Linked DNA regions of Homo sapiens: region 2 is linked to region 1. The links come from fine-mapping of genetic effects on gene expression. A gene starts in region 1. The other region holds a variant in brackets. All regions are shown on one strand. Distances are between the middles of the regions. Region 1 holds the start of MYO1E (myosin IE). Region 2 overlaps MYO1E (myosin IE).

Evidence for each region. PIP is the estimated chance that this variant, and not a neighbour inherited with it, causes the effect.
Region 2: its variant is fine-mapped to the expression of MYO1E in lung (TOPMed, PIP above 0.99). The same link has a PIP of 0.9 or more in whole blood.

What each region holds. Positions count from the first base shown.
Region 1 is chr15:59,371,771-59,374,677 of GRCh38, forward strand. It overlaps MYO1E (myosin IE), which reads right to left and starts at 1,101. Exons shown (of 28, transcript NM_004998.4): 1 at 728-1,101. The coding sequence starts at 730. RefSeq lists a silencer at 46-365 and enhancers at 381-884, 885-1,389.
Region 2 is chr15:59,135,655-59,138,561 of GRCh38, forward strand. It overlaps MYO1E (myosin IE), which reads right to left. Exons shown (of 28, transcript NM_004998.4): 27 at 2,544-2,713; 28 at 1-1,802. The coding sequence ends at 1,726. Among named protein-coding and RNA genes, the nearest start is that of CCNB2, 32 kb to the left of the region's middle. RefSeq lists an enhancer at 2,556-2,850. The variant G/A (reference allele first, on the strand shown) is at 1,307.

The sequences.
Region 1 (2,907 bases):
ACTTGGCGTCCGGGGCGCGGAGACCCTCGGGGCCGGCGCCCGGCACAGGTCCGGGGCGGCGTGGTTGCCGCCCGCGCCCGAGTCTCCCTGGCTCTTGACAGCCCGCCGGCCGCCAGGTGCTCGCCCTACCTGGCGCCCCCGCCTGCCTTTGTGCGGCCCGCGCCGCCCCTCGCCAAGGCGGGCCAGGGACCGCCCCCGCCCGCGTGCCGCTGCCAGGCGGGACAGCTGCGGGCGCTGCCGGGCAGCGGAGCGGCGGCGGGGAGGAGAGGGAGTCGGCGCGAGGGTGCCCGGGGCGGGGCGGGCACGGCCGCGGGGAGGGCAGGGGACGCCGCCAGCGGCTGCGGCGCGAGTCTCCGAGCACCTCCCCTGCCGGCTGCGCCCCCCACGTCCCAGCAGGAGGAGGGGACCCCCTCCCGCGCCGTGCCCCTCGCAGCCGATGCGCCCACACCCTGGCTTCCGACAGCTGGCAGCCATAGCAACCCGGCCACAGAAAGTTTCGCGACGCAGAAACCGACTTGGAATAAAGTTTTCCTTGGCCCCTCGCTCGCTCTCCCCCGGCCCGGGTTTACGGAAAGCGGCAGGAAATCAGAGCTCGCGACGTGCCGGCTCCCGCGTCCACCTTCTCCACCCCTGGCCCCGGCAGCGCGCCCAAGGTGGGTGCACCACGCCGGGGTTTCCTGCCCCGTCCCCGGGTCCGGCGTCCTAGGACGCGGCGCGGCCAACTCACCATGGTGACTCGCGCCGCGGTCGCGTCTTCGCCGGGTCCCGCTGCCGGGGAACTGGGGCTGGAACGCAGTCTTCTGGGCGAACTTCAAAAGTTGGTTCCCCTCGCCAAAAACAGGCTCCCGACACCCAAGCACTCACAGGAGCCAATGGGAACCCAGAGGGGACTCCATCCAGGCGGGATTGGCGGTGCTAGGTGAGGGCGAGACGGCGGCGACTTAGCAGGCGGGGCGCATGCTGCGGAGGGCAAGAGTCCACTCGTACTCGCCGGTCGCCGCCGGCCCAGGTGAGTCCGATGCGCTCGGAGCGTCCGCCTCGCTCCCCTGCCTCACTCCTCTTTCTTCGGCCACTTAATCCGTACTCCTCTGGCTGAGTCTCGGCTCGGGCCGGGCAATCTGTCCATAAATGGAGAACTCAGCTCAGGCCTGACCAATCAGGGTTTGTTTTCGTAGCGTCACTCCTCAGGGAAACCGTAGTAGCCAACAAGCTTGGAGCTGCTGGAGTTTCCAAAGATCTCTGGATCCTGTAGTCCTCCTCCCGCGCCAGCCACCGAAGAACGCTGCGGACCCAGCTCGCTCCTGGTAGCAAGACCCGAACTGTAAGGAACAAAACCCTCGTGAAAGAGGAGCAAACCTTTCACTTCGCTGCGTTTTAAGACGAAAGTTAGGGTGGGTTTCGCTTCCAAGTTGAAGGGGCATGATTTTCCCAGAACTTTTTTTTAAGAAGGAAATATTTTATCAGCATAAAACATCAGAGTCGTGGCAGCAGCCCAAAGGAAATCCTTTTTCTTTCCTACGTCTGGATTGTGAGCAAAGTCAAAAATATCATTTCCCCACCCCTCCTTTTACCTGAATTTCCTTGGAAAACAAAGGAAGACTTCCGGCTGCTTTTTCTTTTCTTTTTTCTGTTTTTCTTTTCTTTCTCTTTCCTTTCTTTCTTGTTTCTTTTTTGCACGTTTTGATGGCAGAAAAGTTGTTGCACGTGCAGTGGGCAGAGGGAAGGAGAGAGGAGAGATAGGTGGGAAGAAACCCCATCCAACCTCAGCCAACACATCTGCTGAAAACAATCAGAACTGTAAAAATGCATTATTCCAGACTGTCGAATATCCAAGGAGAAGATTGGGGTGGGGCGGGGTGGGGGGAAGCAGAATCTTAAAATCAAGGTAGGGAGTTTGATTTTATTGTTCTGGAGGCTGAGGAAGTAAATTTGGTGAGTCTTAACAGGCTGCCTTCCTGGAATCTGTAGAAGATAAAATTGGTAAACTTCAGGGCATAGAGAAACTATGAAGCATAATGATATTATGATACTTTCTGAAATTTGGTTGAGGCAGGGCGCTGTGGCTCACGCCTACAATCCCAGCACTTTGGGAGGCTGAGGTTGGTGGATCACGTGAGGTCAGGAGTTTGAGACCAGCCTGGCCACCAACACGGTGAAACCCCTTCTCTACTAAAAATACAAAAATTAGCCCGGCATGGTTATACATGCCTGTAATCTCAGCTACTCGGGAGGCTGAGGCACGAGAATCGTTTAAACAGGGGAGGCGGAGGTCGCAGGGAGCCGGGATCGTTCCACTCTACTCCAGCCTGGGCGACAGAGCAAGATTCTGTCAAAAAAAAAAAGAAGGAAAGAAAGAAAGAGAGAGAGAGAGAAGAAAGGAAGAAAGGAAAAAGAAATTTGGTTGTAGCTCTTCACTTGACTATCTGAGCATAGAGTTAGAAAGGGTATTAAACTTTATCTTGTCTAAAAGGGTAAACAAAATGTTACAACATGGATGAATCTCGAAAATATCGTGTTAAGCCAGGAGCAAAAGACCACATATTATATAATTCCATTTAAATGAAAGTTGAGGATAGGGAAATCTATAGAGATAAAAAGTAGGTTAGTGGTTTGCTAGGGGCTGGGGGAGAGGGGAGATGGAAGTAATTGCTAACAGGTATGCATTTTCCTATTGAAGTGATGAAAATATTCTGGAATTAGTGGTGATGATTGTACAAGTTTATGAATATACTAAAAACCACTGTGTTATGCTTTTTAAATGGGTGAGTCTTATGGTACGTTCATTATATCTCACTTTTAAAAGTTGAAAGAAAATCATATTGTCCAAATTCTTGTAGTAATCATTTACATAGTTTGGCAACAATATAATCGAATGTGTGTTATAAGACAGCACAGCTAAACACTGGA
Region 2 (2,907 bases), 240 kb before region 1:
ACAGCAGAATTAAATGTATCTTCGTTTCAAATCTAGATCAATTTTTTTCCCTTATACGTAAGCCCTGATAATTTTTTCCCATGGACTTGAGGATCCTGAAAGCCTCAAAGGTGTATGCTGCTCAAACTCTAAGTTACCAGTAGCTTAAGAATGGCTATGGCACCCAGAGGAGGAAAGGTAGAGAAATGGCAGTCTCTACTTACAACCATTCCATTATTGATGGGCATTACACTGATTCCAGCTTTTCACTATTATGGCAAGAAAACATTGTTTTAGTTTGTTAGGGCTGCCGTAACAAACTACCACAAACCGAGTGGCTTAAACAGCGAAATGTATTGCCTCACAGTTCTGGAGGTTGGAAGTCCAAGACCAAGGTGGGCAGGGCTGGTTCCTTGTGAGGGTGTGAGGGAGAATCTGTTCCAGGCCTCTGTCCAGGGCTTGTGAATGGCTGTCTTCTCCCTGCCTTTTCACATGGTCTTTCCTCTGGCATGTTGGTCTCTGTGTCCAAATTTCCCCTTTTCATCAGGACACCATTATATTGGATTAAGACCCACTCTAATGACTTCATTTTAATTAGTTTTGTTTGTTTGCTCCATAAAGACTCTATTTCCAAATAAGGTCATATTGTGAGGTACTGGTGGCTGGGACTCCAACATCTTCTTTGGAGGCACACAATTCAACCCATAACAAATGTCATAAAAGAAGAAGGTGTTCGCCGATTCCTTTATTTATTTAGGAGGTGGGGGCAGGACGCGGAGTAAGTTTCCTATAGGGAAAGAGTTGAGAAGAGTCTGCAGGGACTGACCTAGAAAGCAGTGACACTCCGTAGTTGGAAAAAAGCAGAGCACATCTTTAAGTACCTGGTGTGAGTTTTGTAAGAAAACCTACCTTATGAATGAGTACAGTGGAATACTACTTAGTACATTCATACATGTTTCTACCATCTCAAGATTTTTATATATACAGTATATGATCTGTTTTTATAAATGTACAGCTTGAAAAAAGATCCTTCTTGTAGTAAGTACAGCATTTAAACACAAACCAATATGGGCCAGCCACATTCTAATTGAAGACCCAGAGAAAGCAAAGCCAGCAGCCCAGCCCCCAGCCCCCAGCCCCTGACCTGCTTGGCGGCCCTGATGGTCCCGGCAAAGTGTAAACCAGTGCCCCTCTGTCGCCCTGGGCTCAGCAGGCCAGCTTACCCTTGGCACGTACATGGGAAGTGCCTGCTCACGCTAAGCCCAGTCTGCAGAGGGCGGGTCCTCCCTGAAGGAAGGTGGCAGAGAGGAATGTGTCTATCAGGTAT[G/A]GACAAGAGAGATGAAAGAAATGTGCTCTTCAACTAAAGGCACTTGTCAGCGGCCACCTACAGCCATTCTCTAGGCCTGGTGAGCAAGCAGGGTGCTGTTTTGATAGAAGCCTACAAGGTCTGAGCAGACCTCACTTGTCCTCTCACCAGGTTTAAATACAATAAATAAATCTTAATGCATGGTGGTTTTGTCCTCCTGGGTTCCTATGAAGAGGCTACCTTTTAGGATCACTTATGGAGTGATACTCCCTGTCCCCAACCCAGCCTTTTCAGTGTCCTCCATGGGGAAGGTACCAGAATAGCTCCAGGCCTTGGAGAAGCAATTGCTCATTGTGGATTGTAAGGGGAGCCCCTAAATATCCCCTCCCCTGGTCTGTGCCTGGAGCTCCTCTGCCCCATGTGTCAGAGTCACGGGCACCTCAGATCTTGGTCACATAGTTGTTGGGGAACAGGCCCTGCTTGCCTCGTAGTCGACCCGTCCACCAGCCAGAAGGATCTGCAGGGAGAGAGAGGTGGTGGAAGTGAAGATGAGAAAGTCTGTTCTGCCCCAGCCACACACACTCCGCTCCCATGGGCTCAAGTGATTTGGCTCCATCCATGTTGTTTTCCCTTTGTTCTTTAAATCAAAAAGTTTGTTGAAAAAAGTAAGATATCTACCAAATTAATAAAGCACTCAGCCAAGCCCATGGACTGCTTTAATAATGGATATTCAAGGTTGTCTTCCTGGCTTCCACTCCATCCACTTTCATTATGAAGAAGCCAGGAAGTGTGGGTGGGACAGACCTCCCCGTTTCTGGGGACAGCCCCTACCAGGTCTCATCCTCTCAGGGTACAGCCTTTGTCTTGCTACTGAAGTTGGTTCAGGGATGGACACATGGCTAATTTGGTCTGATCAGAATAAAAGTCAGGACTTTTGTCCAATGACTAAGAACAGAAGTTTCAGAGATGATGCACATTTCAGACATGGTTTGATATGTTGGCCTGGAATTGCTGCTGCCGTTTTGCTACCATGAAGAAAAACAGCTTGACAAGGGAGGGAATATAAATAAGGGGGCAGAGCTGAAAGAAGCATTAAAAAAGCTGGTGTCTTGATCAGACTGAGCCTGAGGCCTGACCTGCCTCTACAAATTGCAGTTTGAGGAGCCCATAAATTCTTTTCATTTTCACACTAGATCTTACAGCAATGTGACTGCATGCTCTTTGGGAGGCTGTCCCAGCCAACCAGCCACACACTTACCTTCTTTGATAATATCAATAATGTCATTGGCATTAAAGCTGAGTTCGTCTGTGTCCTGAGCGTCATAGGCATACAAAGCCTTGCACTGTGGCACCTGAGGCTTGGGCTTGGGCTGGGGCTTGGGTCTGCCCCCTGCTGGGGGAGGCCGACTGGTTGTTTGTCTCCTGACCCTGTGGAGAGAGTGGAGCAGATGAGACTGGGCCCCAACAGGGGGCAGCAGCACCGAACGGTGGTTTGGAGCATGGCGGCCGGCACTGGCCTGTTCAAGTTCAAATCCAGCTCCATCCTTAGAAGACATGTGGCCCAGGGTGCAGTCTTTAAACTTGAGGAATAAAAGTAACTTTTCTGACAAGGTTGTTGCAAA